3 separate regions of the Homo sapiens genome follow, and all the other regions are linked to region 1. Evidence: fine-mapped expression QTL. A gene starts in region 1. Each other region holds a variant in brackets. All regions are shown on one strand. Distances are between the middles of the regions.

Region 1 (4,000 bases):
GGAGGCAAAAAACGGAGTAGGTAGAGCTAAAATCTTTATGGGGCAGTGGGAAAAAGAAAAGGCTGGAAACACGATGTGTTAATATTTCTTGTCTTACGGCTACTTTGGATCATTTCCAAGAACAATTCCTGCCCCTTACTGCCTACCAACACACATGAGGGTCTATAGCAAGCTTGTCTAACTCGCAGCCTGTGGCCCAGGAGGGCTTTGAATGCAGCCCAACACAAATTCATAAACTTTCTTAAAACATTGTGAGATTTTTTTTGTGATTTTTTTTTTTTAGCTCATCAGCTGTCATTACTGTTAATGTATTTAATGTGTAGCCCAAGACGATTCTAATGTGGGAAGACAAAAGATTGGACACCCCTGGTCTATAGCAGCATAAAACTCTGCTGTTTCCTGCCCACATCTGGAACTCCACACTTAGGCTGTTTCCTTTGCTGTAAGGCTTAGAAAATTTATATTCTGTGAAGACTTAATGTGCAGGTGGTTATACTCTGTCCTTTGCAGTACGGTGTTTATGCCTCTGGGAACAGTGATTTTCACGTGCTGTATGGGTGTTTGTATTCAGGTAAGTTCCAGGAAAATGGACATTCAATTTCCGTAAGAAGGTTAATGTGCATAGATACTAGACCCCCACCAGGTGATCCATTATAACTGCCCCAAAACACTAACACCTGAAAATGCATTTTGTGAAAAACAAAGGCAAATGCATTTTTACCTTAGAAATGTTGATTCTGGAAGAGTTGGGGGCACTTGGTAAGTTGTTTGTGGCAAAGGCAAGGGCTGCAAAGCCCGTGACAGGAAGCAGGGTAGGTATAAAGTCAAGGATTAAGAACAGTACTTGGCACAAAATAGTTACTTGATGCTGAATGAATTAGTCTCCCTCCGTCATCTACTTCCCAGGGGCTAGATCCAGACAGAGGTCAAGAAGATGGGGCCTGTTGAAAGTTAAAGGACCTGCCGTCTGTTTCTTCTTTGAACAAGTGAAAGGTAGTAAAAAGTAGATGGCTTTCTACCATAGGTTTTAAGTTTAAGAACCCTAGGATGGTACTGTCACATTCTCTTAGGGAGGTCATAGCTGTGGGAACTGTCAACAGGTTGACTCATTTAAATGTGTCCTACATAAAGCAACATCAGATGAGTTCTGATTTACAAGTCTGCCAGGCTGGCCTGTGAGCCTCTGGGCAGAGTTCCCGTCCCATGCATTGCTGTAGCCTCAGTTCCTCCACATAGTAAATGCCCAAGTACCTATAGAAGAAATCGTGTGTGAGCCCACACTCTTTTTTTATATTTTAGAGACGGAGTCTGGCTCTGTTGCCCAGGCTGGAGTGCAGTGGCACAATCTCGGCTCACTGCAAGCTCCGCCTCACTGCAAGCCCCGCCTCACTGCAAGCTCCGCCTCACTGCAAGCTCCGCCTCCCGGGTTCACGCCATTCTCCTGCCTCAGCCTCCCCAGTAGATGGGACTACAGGTGCCCGCCACCATGCCTGGCTACTTTTTTGTATTTTTTAGTAGAGACGGGGTTTCACCATGTTAGCCAGGATGGGCTCTATCTCCTGTCCTTGTGATCCGTCCGCCACGGCCTCCCAAAGTGCTGGGATTACAGGCGTGAGCCACCGCGCCCGGCCCTGAGCCCACACTCTTTATTCGTTATGACGGTGCTGCAACTACCAATAAGTTGTGAGGGTTAAATGGGATGAGATGTCACAGTATTATTTGCCTGTTAGGGAGGTTTTAGGGCACGCGCCTCTTCTCTCCAAATTGGAATCACCCAAAGAGTTTTAGTAAATACTGGGCCCATCCAGGGTTAATTTTCTTCTAATTGGTTTGGGGTGCTGCTTGGACAGGGGGACTTTTAAAATTCTATACTGACCCACCAGGACTGACATGAGAACTACTCGCTTAGTAACTGTTAGAGGAGGCGCCAGCTGATCAGGACCTAAAGTTCATATTCTTTTTCATCTCCCCGTTGTCGCTGAAGCCTACCCCATAAACCCCTACCGTCCCTTTGCCCACAGCAGAGAATTTCCGGGAAAACGGGAAAGGTATGCAAGCATGCCCACACACGTGCACACACGGGTTCCCAAAAGACCTGCGTGTGGCCGCAGGGGCCTGCCCCGCCCTTCTCGGGCCCTTTCAGGTCCCGGCGCCCAGCGATCCCACCAGCACCTGGGTCCGGCGCGCGGCTCCCTCCCTCTCCGCGCCCCTCGGGGCTCCCTGCCCCGCCCGCGTGCCCCACCCTTCCTAGCTCTGCCCCATCGCTGCTCCCTGCCCCGCCCACGGGCCCCATCCTACCCCCACCTCGATCCGCCCCTCGCTCCTCCCTGCCCCGCCCACCGCGCCCCGTCCCTGTCCGCCCCTTCTGGCTCTCAGCACCCCCAAGACCGGTGCGCGCCCCGCCCCTCCTCCTCCTCTCGCGAGGCAGTCCCGACGCCGGAAGTGCCTGGAGCGCGCGACAGCGGCGGGGCGGGGCGGCCTGGAGGCTGTGGCGCGCGGCCGGCAGAGGGAGGGGAGAGGCCACTGGGGCCGTGTTAGTCTGCCGGTGGGGACTCTTGCAGGTACAGGCGCGGTCGGGGCTCCTCGTGGAGAGCCGGGGGCTCCTGCCGGCCTCTGACTGGGGTGTCGTTGCAGGGCCGTCCCCATGTTGCGTTTTCCGACCTGTTTCCCATCCTTCCGGGTGGTGGGAGAGAAGCAGCTCCCGCAGGAGATTATTTTCCTGGTCTGGTCGCCCAAGCGGGATCTCATTGCTTTGGCCAACACAGCTGGCGAGGTGAGTGAGCCGGCGGGAGCCCGCCTGTGCTGGGTCTGCTCCCGGGGGGCCCAAGAACACCGAGCCCGAGCCTGTTCATTCGGGCCACAGGCGGCCGGAGCCTCAGTTTCCCCTTCTGCAGACATGGCTGGCCACCTGCTACCCCTTCCCTGCCTCCCAGGACGGCAGTAAACTTTAAGTATATATGCGAAAGGTGATGTCTGTGCTATTTTCGGTACTTTTATGGCTAAAGTAACAGTTTTCACACAGCTTAACACCGTCACGCAATCCTGCTTCCCCAAGTCTTCTTCACTCATTGGTTTATTAGTTAAATGAACTTTTTAAAAAAGCCCACTATGTGCTGCTCATGAGCTAGACATAATGGTAGATGCAGGGACCCTGCCCTAAGTTTGCTTACAGTTTTAATAGCAGTAGGAAGAGTTATTGTCAAACTTCAGCTGCAAATGTGCCTGCATGTAGCTGCCACACAGGATATATTTAAGAACCTGGCTTCTCTTGTCCACGTTTTATAGTACGGGTTGGATAACCACCCTCCACTAAAAATACCTCTAAATTGGACAAGGAAGGCATGCATTGGATTCCAGACAGAACGTGCATGGGTGTTATCAGCATTTCTTGTTCACATAAAACTTCATCGAGTATAAACCAGTTGTACCCAACTTTCTGCTGAGAGTTATTACCTGCCAGCCATTTTGTAAGGAAACCTTCACCTGTGCATCTTTCCGCCTCTGGCTTGAGAGTTATCTGGCCATGTGAGAGTTGTATAGAGCCAAATTTGGAAACTAGGTGATAAGGAAATCTTAGCACCCTGCAGACTGTAGTCTGCACCATGTTATCTACCATGATCCAGTCGCCAGGGTATTGATGTCTAATTTTTCAGGGCCCTCCATGAAATCTAGCTAGTCTCCCTCCGCTGCCGGGATGCTTTGAAACTCTGTTGTGGCTCTAGAGAGCAGCAGGTGGTACCGTCACAGAAGTAGGAGGGAAGGTAGACGGGAGGCACATCCGTGCAATCAGATGGGTAGGCGTGATAGAGGGCACTGTTACATCCATTTTCTCAGTGAAGGAAGAAGCAAGGGCATTGTTTATGGGTGAAGATGGAGAAGAATATATTGGAAGTTTGAGGAGAAAGAAGAGGTATGAAAAAGCTAACAAAGCAGGTGGACTTGGGAAACCTAATAGGATTGCCAGTCAGTGTTAAGACCCACATGAGATCGGTGTTATTAT
Region 2 (4,348 bases), 21 kb after region 1:
GGCTGGAGTGCAGTGATGTGATCTCGGCTCACTGCAACCTCCGCCTCCCGGGTTCAAGCGATTCTCCTGCCTCAGCCTCTCAAGTAGCTGGGATTACAGGCGCAAACCACTACGCCTGGCTAATTTTTGTATTTTTAGTAGAGACGGGGTTTCACCGTGTTGGCCAGACTGGCCTCAAGCTCCTGACCGCAAGTGATCCACCTGCCTCGGCCTCCCAAAGTGCTGGGATTACAGGCATGAGCCACCACACCTGGTGGTGTTTGGTTTAAATTTTGGTATATTCCTTTATGCTGAGTCCCTGGCCCTAACTACATCACCCCTCCCTTGGACCACTGTAGCACCCTCTGGACTAGTTGGGCTCTTTCAGTACACACTGTCCTTTGAATGTATTTTCCCCAGTAGAGCTAAACATATTTCTCTCTTAAAAACTTCTAATGCCTTCCGTTAGAATGGAGACCTTTGTGTGGCCTTTAGCATACCTGCCTCTCTGCCTCGCCCACACTGATGGCCATTTAGTTTCTCCAACTTGACATTTTGTCTCCTGCCTAGGGCTTTTGCATATTCCTCTTGTCCCAACTTGTTCTTCACATGCATTCTTCAGCTCTCAGCTCATTCATTCCTTCAGAAAAGCCTTTCTGAATCCCAGATTAGCTCAGGTTCTTCTGTTATACCTGCACCCCATGTGTTTCCTTCAAGGCATTTATAGTAGTTGGAATGGTACACTGTATGACTATGCGATCATGACTGTCTTCCCTGTTATACTGTCAATGCCATGAGACCCTTTGATTGTGTTCACCGTTATGTCCCCAGTATATAGCACGGTACCTGACCCAAAATGGGAACTTAAGAAATATTTATTGAACATTGACTGTGTAGTAGTTGGGTGAACAAGATGGCTGTACAACTGTCTTAAAAGGGTCAGGACTAACTGTGGAACACAATTTGATCATCTTACAAAATTTGATCTTGTCATTTGTTTATCTCTGTAGTCACATTGACCAGATGGTTCTGCTGCAGTTTTTAGGAACAGTTTTGAGAAATAATTATTTCTCATGGAAACAAAATGAAAGTTACTTTCAGTTTTTATTTCTGAAAATTTAGAAATATTCAGGCAAGTTAGTCACTTGATGATCGTCATGATACTAATTTATTTCTGCTCTGTTTGGATAGTGGCTCGGAGTCTTTATTATACCATTTGAGTGAATTGAAAGGAATGGCTTCATGGAAGCAAAAATATGAACCTCTTGGACTAGATGCTGCAGGAATCGAAGGTAGTGATTTAATTTCTCAGTGAAATACATTAAACACAGTTTACTTATTTGACAAATGACGTTTATTTATTTTTTCCCTTTAGAAGCTATAACTGCTGTGGGTTCTTTTATACTCAAGGCAAATGAACTTCTTCAGTAAGTATTGGGAGTACCTGGAATCACTGACCTAAGAATATGTCACTTTTGACCTAAATAAGAACCTAGTAAGCTGTTATGATTCTCTTAAAATCAGTTTTTAAATTTTTATCACAATTATGCCTTTATATGGTTCCGAAAAGCCAGCAGCACAGAGAATTTATAAAGTAAAGCTGTATTTTCCTGTCCTGGTCATCCTTACCTCAGGTCTTCTCGCCAGAGGGAATCATTTTAACTCTTTAACTACTTCTATTTTTAGTTCTTCTATGGGTTACCTCCATATTTCTAAATTGTATGACTATGCCACATTTCTTTTGTCAATTTTTAGAAGTTATTCTCTTTGTTTTGTTTTTCTTAGACTGTTAGGCTTGCTTGTTTTCTTGCATTGTCTGTTTTTTCTGCATCCTTCCGTCCTTTCCCTTCTGAAGGGTGGTGTAGTACCTCTGGAGTCCCCTGTTCCAGATGCCTTCCTTAGCCTCCCACCCCTCTGCTTCAGCCTGCAGCTGTGGTCCAGTTCTCCTGCACGGCTACCACCCGGGCATTTTCTTCATTACTCTCCTGGGTTAGACCCAGAACTGCCAGGATTGCCTTTGTTTCTTGGCTTATTTAATCATTTTGCTGGAAAACATCCTCTAGTAACTTTCTCAAAAAGCAGACATAGAAGGTAAACTTTATCTCCTTTTGTGTTTTTTCTCCTACCCTCACACTTAATTGACAGCTGGCTTTAGGATTCCCTGAGGGTTATTGGTTTTCACATAGAACTTCAAAAGCAGAGTTCCATAGGATTCTGTGCTTTTTGTTGCTGATGGAAGGTCTGGTGCTTCTAATTCTTAGCCCTTTATAGTTTTTTTTTTTTTTCGTTTTGAAAAAGCTGTAAAAGCATTACTCTTTATTCTTGATATGTTGAAATTTCATAACAGTGTTTTTGGGTGTGGGCCTTTTAATTCATTGTGCTATAATAAGCCATTTTAACCTGAATTCTCTTGTATTATTCTTTTAATAATTTACTCCTCCCTCTTTTATTTACTTTATTATTATTTATTTATTTTTGCGATGGGGTCTTTCTATGTTGCCCAGGCTGGACTTGAGCTCCTGGGCTCAAGTGATCCTCTTGCCTCAGCCTCCTGAGGAGCTGGGACTACAGGAGTATGCCATTA[C/T]GCCAAGCTTTCTCTTTGTTTTAAACTAGATTTTTGTTCTAGAAATCTGTTTGGTCAGATATTAGAATTTGTGGTGGATTGATTTCTGTGTCTTTTCTTTTTCTCTTACATTTTTCATATCTTTGTCTTTTTGATTTTCTGAGAGTTTTTTGATTATTGTCAAATGTCAGTAAACATTTGTTGAGCACTTAACTATGTTTTAAATACAGTGATAAGTAATGTTGAGAAAAACCAAGCAAGAAACAAGGACCTAGGGCATGATAAGGTAGGGGATTCAACTTTATATAGGTGGTCAGGGAGGCCTCACTGAGAAGGTGAAGTTGGAAGGAGACGGAAGGGAGCAAGCCCTGTTGATATTTGGGGGTGGAAGGGGCAGCAAGTGTGAAGGCCCTGAGTTTGGAGCATGCCTGGCATGTTGCAGGGACAAGGGCACTATAGCTGAAGCAGATTGAATGAGAGTAAGGTAGGAGGTGGATTGACAGGTGATAGAGGATGGCCAGGTTGCATAGAGTCTGTGGGCAGTTGTTAGGACTTTGGCCTTTACTCTGGATGTAAAGAGAAGCCCTTGGGGATTTGGGAGTAGTGGAGAGGATATGATTTAGGCTTCAGAAAGATCCCTCTTGCTGCTCAGAGTTGAGAATAGCTCATAGATAGGCAAGGACAGAAGCCAAGAGAGAAATGGTGGTCAGAATCTGAAGTGGTCAGGATTGGGATATATTTTGAGAATGTAATTAACAAGATTTTCTCAATGCTTATCTGTAGATGGTGATAATAAGGGAGTCATAGATAATTATGAGTTTAGGGCCTTGGTACTTGAAAGAGTAGAATTGATATTTACTGAAAGGGGGAACAAATGTGAGGGCAGGTTTAGGGAGGGGGAGTGTAGAGTAAGATCAAGAGTTTGGTTTGGACATACTAGATTGTTCTTTAGACTTACTATTTTGAAGTAATTTTACATAAAAATTACAAGAATAATAGAGACAACTCTGCTAGTACTCCTTTACTTGATTCATCATTTAAAAATATTATACTGTATTTATCATATAATTTATCTTTTCTGAAACATGTGAGAGTATGTTGTTTATATCAGGTGCCTTTTACCTGGAATACTTTAGTGCGTATTTTCTAAGAATAAAATTATTTTCTTACATAACCACAGTACAGTTAACAAATTTAGGAATTTTTAACATTAATACAGTATATTAACCTACAGTTCAATTCCCCTTTAGCAGTTATCCCAATATGTCCAGTATGATAAGATGCAGTTCGGGATCACGTATTTGTTTTAGTTGCTGTGTCTCTTTAATTTTGAGCAGTTTCTTAAATTTTCTTGGTCTTTTATAAAAGTTGACATTTCTTTAAGAAGCACATCATGTATGTATGTATATGTATGTCTGTGTATCTTTTTTTATGTTTCTCATTTTAGGGTTATCTGATTTTTTTTAATGATTATATTTAGGTTATGCATCCCTGGCCAGAAATACTACATAATTGGTATGTCCTTCTCAAGTTGTCATATCCAGCAGCACACACAGTGTCCGTCATCCACCCCTCTCAGTGATGTTAATTTCGGCCACCCTGTCAGTGTGTTAGATGTATGGAATTTGAAATGCCCATTAGATCTGCAGGTGGAGCTGTCCAGCACAGTGTTAGTTATGTGAGACTAGCGTTCAAGGGAGGGGTCCAGGCTGGAAATGTGCATTTGGGAGCCATCAGCACATTGGTGTTATTTAAAGCCATGGGACTGGATGAGGTAATGAGTGTGCACAGAGAACAGGAGTGACC
Region 3 (4,348 bases), 47 kb after region 1:
CTTTGCTGGTAATCAGCCATTCTAGTTCATAAATGTCACCTTTCCTCTGGTGTGTGCAGTCAGACTGAACTCACTGCTCAAGATATGAGGTGTAATGTGTAGTTATCACGGTACAGATGATAAATCTGTCCCACAACATGACTATAAGTGAAACTTATGTTTACTGGCTTATTATGTTTTAAGCAGTAAAACAAGACAAGTTTGTTGTTTGTGCTTCCTGCCATCAGATTTATGACTGAAAACTTTAGGGACTGTTTTTCTTCATTTCTGCATTCCTGATTCCTGTTACAGAGTGAATATTATTCTTTCAAGTGATATTTCTGTCCACTGTTCAGATAGTAAAACTGGGTGGAGCCCAAACTGGAGGAGTGGCCAGCTTGCTATAAATGATCCTCGTGATTGTCAGCATTTTCATGATACTGCAAAACTTTCTAACCTTGAGAATATGTTACTTCCCTTTTTCCTTTCCACCGCTTACTTTGTCCTGCCAAATTGTTGCAGGAAGAGAGATTCAAGGATTAAAAATATTTATGGGCCTGGCAGGTAGCTCACGCCTATAATCCCAACACTTTGGGAAGCCGAGGTGAGTGGATTGCTTGAGCTCAGGAGTTTCGGCAACATGGCAAACCCCGTGTCTATAAAATACAAAAATTAGCTGGGCGTGGTGGTGCATGCCTATAGTCCCAGCTACTCAGGAGGCAGAGGTGCAAGGGATTGAGCCTGGGAGGTGGAGGCTGTGGTGAGCTCTGATTGTGTCACTGCACTCCAGCCTGGGTGACAGAGACCTTGTCTCAAATAAATTATATGTATGATATATATGTGTGTGTGTGTGTGTGTGTGTGTGTGTGTGTATGTATATATGTATACATATATATATATATCCTCGTTCTCTTGGGATGGAAAGTTAAGATCTAGCGGCAGAGTGTGGATAGCAAAGGGGCTGGCTGAGACCATTGTTCTGGGGCCCTGCAAGGTGTAGGGCCCATTTTCTCCACTGGAGAAGGAGGAGACTACATGGCCCAGGTGGCAGGACACCCAAGTGACCAGTTCAATGGACACCTTTCAGGCTGGTGTAGTCAGGCATATCAGATGCTGCGGAGAAACAGCGAGATGGAAAATTGCCCATTACCTCTGAAAAGCTGCATGTCAGTTGTGACCCTGATAGAAACTTGGAGGCGTGTTGAGGACAGGAGCCCTATTGAAATGGGTGTAGAATGGATGTGAGGTGAGTCAGTGGAGGCCAAGTGGAGGCAACTCTGGAGGATTTTGCTGTGAGGGGCACAGAGATGGAGTGGTGGCAGGGGAGGGAAATGGCACCAGAGAACTTTTTTTAGAAAGATGGATGATACTAGGCATCTTTATTCGTCAATATGAGTGATCCACCAAAGAAGGAGAAATTGACCATTCTAGAGTAAAAGGAGATGCGCTGGAAGAAATCCTTGAGAAGGCTAAAAGGGCTAGGGCCCAGTGACCATTGCAGGGATCGAGCGTAGGGTGGAACATGACTTTCTTCCACCCTAATGGGAGTCTGTGGGGACAGGTGCTGGTGGGTGCAGCACCGCGTGGCAGGTGTAGCATTTTTCCCTCGGAGAGAAGTGTTCAGGTCTTTATGGAGAGTGATGAGGAGAGGAGAGGTAGAAAATAGGTGTCTCAGATTGGAAAATGAGAGAATTATGGAGTTTTAGAATCAGAGGGATAGAAATAAAGAGGCTATGACCAGAGAAGAGACATTGGCAGTCTTAGGGAGGTGGTGAAGTCTCTGATGACAGGTATAACCATGGCAGTTGGCAGCTGCTATTGGTGTGAAGGGGAAAGTCACTGGAGCCAAGTAGATTCAGAGCTGAGTGGCTGGGGTTTTGGATGGCTCATCTGTGTGGCTGGTAAAGTTGCAAAAGCAGATGGAGATGGTAACAGTGAGTTGGGTCCTGAGGTCACCCGTGAATGAGGAGGTATCAGTGGGGTATTGAGAGCAGAAGGAAAAACTGCTTCTGAGACTCTTGCTACCTTGAAAGACCCAGAGGAGGGTCAGGCACCTACCTAGTCAGTTAGTAGCAAGGCTGGGATCTAAGCCCAGGGGGACTGGACTGCCCTGGAGGAGCTCCTAACAGACACCTGTGGTTAGAAAGGACATGAGAACAGGATAAAAAGACTAAGCCAACCTGTAAGCATGGCCACTGCCTTTGAATCTCTGTCTACTGTAGGTTAGTGCTCCTCACACCTGGGAGGTAAGATTAAGGGCTCTAATGGTGGTGGACTTTTTAATTTAATTTAATTTTATTTTATTTTATTTTAGACACGATCTTGCTCTGTTACCCAGGCTTCAGGCTAAAGTGTAGTGGCATAAACA[T/C]GGCTCACTGCAGACTTGATCTCCTGGGCTCAAGCAATCCTCCCGAGTAGCTCAGATTAACAGCACATGCCACCACGCCTGGCTAATTTTTTTTTTTTTTGTAATGACGGGGTCTTGCCATGTTACCCAGATTGGTTTTGAAACCCTGGGCTCAAGCAGTCCTCCCACCTCAGCCTCCCAAAGTGCTTGGACTACAGGTGTGAGCCACCATACCTGGCCTTCTTTCTTCTTTTCTTTTTAACCCCAAGGCAGGGAGAAGTGGTCATTTCCGATTATTTTAAATCTGGAACCAGTAGCAATCCCCAGGTGTTTTAGGAAGGGGGTCTTTGTGGTTGCTGTCCTGCCTAATTTTGTCTTTAGTGCACTGTTGGTTACAGACACAATTATGTGTGTGGCACAGGGAGGAGAGGGCCCAAGATGACTGCGTGGAGAGTGGGCCTGAGCAAGCGCCTGCTCAAAGTCCAGGTCAGGAGGCTGGGTGAGGCGGGATGAACTGAACAGTCAGTTTGTTGCCCTGTGAAGGTGCAGTCCAGGGCCTTCCTAGCTCTGGGCCAATGTGGTCCATATCGCCAAACCTTTCCTGGGTGGTCTGAAGATTTTCTTAAGGGGAACTAACTGCCCAGTCCAGGCACCTCTGGCCATTTGGGGAATGAGGCAGGCAAGTCTCGGCTTGGCCTCAGTTCCCAGGCCCCTAGGAATTGGCACTGGGCTTCAGCTCGCTACTTAGCAGATCCAGTAGGGCCTAGACCCAGCTGGACCTGGGAGCCTCTGGAGCTGCCAAATTGTACATGAAATTCCTGTGTGCTTGGCCGGACAAGAGGTTCATGATCGAAGGGTTACTGCCTGCACCTGCCTCTGTCCCTCCCCCAGATTTTTCCTGTCTGCATTTGGCTTTTTAAGGTTCTCCTATGCAGAATTGGCTGTGGAAGAGAAATAGCATGGGAGAGATTGCAAGGTGCTTTTTATATACATTCTCACAGAATTCTCTAAACAACTAACTCTGCAATAAAGGGATTGCTCATCTTATTTTACAGAAAAGTTGAGAGAGATTTGGTTTGACGTGTCCCAAATCACGCAGCTAGTAGGCGGAACGGCCTGGATGCAAAACAGGTGGTCTGACTCCAGATAAGAATAATTGCTAACATGATTATTTAGTAAGAGTCAGAAATCATGCCAAGAACATTCCATGGATACTTACCTAAACATCATCACAGTCCTACAAGGTAAGTGCTATTATTATTAGCATCATTTCACAGATGAAGGACTTGAGGCCAAGAGATGTTTACTAAGTTGTCCACAGGAATTACACGGGCAGCAGGGTGGGACTGGGATGGGAAACCAGGCAGTCTGGCCACAGGACCCATTCCTTCAGCCACTGCACATGTTTCCTTTCTGGGGCCTGGATCCTTTGGCCCCTCCTGCCTTGCCCATGGCTGCACTCACAGAGCTCGGTCTTCCTGCAGTGGCACAACTACTTGAGTGTCTGTGTGGCACAGGCCAGCAAGGATGGCCAGGCTTGCATTCGTGATGAGCTTTGTTTTTCTCAGAGGTCCTTCATTCATAGCCACCATCGGCTCTGCGGAAACAGGCTGTGAGGAATGATGTCTGGTAGACCTTGGACCAGAACCTGGGCTTCTGACCCCGTAGTTTAGTGTGCTTTCCTCCAAGACAGTGCTTGTACAAAGCCAGTGTTACTTATGCATCCTTTGTCACCTTAAGAGAGTTTTTTTTTTTAAGACAGTCTCACTTTGTCACCAGGCTGGAGTGCAGTGGCACAATCTCAGCTCACTACAACATCTGCCTCCTGGGTTCAAGGGATTCTTGTGCCTCAGTCTCCCAAGTAGCTGGGATTACAGGTGCCCGTGACCACACCCAGCTAATTTTTGTGTTTTTGTTAGAGATGGGGTTTCACTGTGTTGGCCAGGCTGGACACCTTAAGAGATCTCTTGTGTGTCTTCAGGCTTCGCGGAGACAGAGCTGTACTCTCCCCAGAGAGGCTAC

Which allele goes with the higher level. Alleles are on the strand shown, and positions count from the first base shown. SD is a standard deviation of normalised expression in the study named. Not every link is listed here.
For the expression in follicular helper T cells of the gene that starts at base 2,480 in region 1, allele C in region 2 goes with a higher level than allele T (large effect, 1.3 SD a copy in Schmiedel 2018).

Evidence for each region. PIP is the estimated chance that this variant, and not a neighbour inherited with it, causes the effect.
Region 2: its variant is the best candidate, but not a certain one, in a credible set for the expression of ANAPC4 in follicular helper T cells (Schmiedel 2018, PIP 0.76).
Region 3: its variant is the best candidate, but not a certain one, in a credible set for the expression of ANAPC4 in lung (GTEx, PIP 0.52).

What each region holds. Positions count from the first base shown.
Region 1 is chr4:25,374,784-25,378,783 of GRCh38, forward strand. ANAPC4 (anaphase promoting complex subunit 4) reads left to right here and starts at 2,480. Exons shown (of 29, transcript NM_013367.3): 1 at 2,480-2,561; 2 at 2,635-2,773. The coding sequence starts at 2,645. RefSeq lists a silencer at 2,183-2,602 and enhancers at 2,723-2,782, 2,813-2,882.
Region 2 is chr4:25,395,494-25,399,841 of GRCh38, forward strand. It overlaps ANAPC4 (anaphase promoting complex subunit 4), which reads left to right. Exons shown (of 29, transcript NM_013367.3): 15 at 1,171-1,271; 16 at 1,355-1,406. Among named protein-coding and RNA genes, the nearest start is that of ANAPC4, 20 kb to the left of the region's middle. The variant C/T (reference allele first, on the strand shown) is at 2,564.
Region 3 is chr4:25,421,936-25,426,283 of GRCh38, forward strand. It overlaps LOC105374536 (a long non-coding RNA gene), which reads left to right and starts at 2,530. Exons shown (of 4, transcript XR_925494.3): 1 at 2,530-3,570. The variant T/C (reference allele first, on the strand shown) is at 2,348.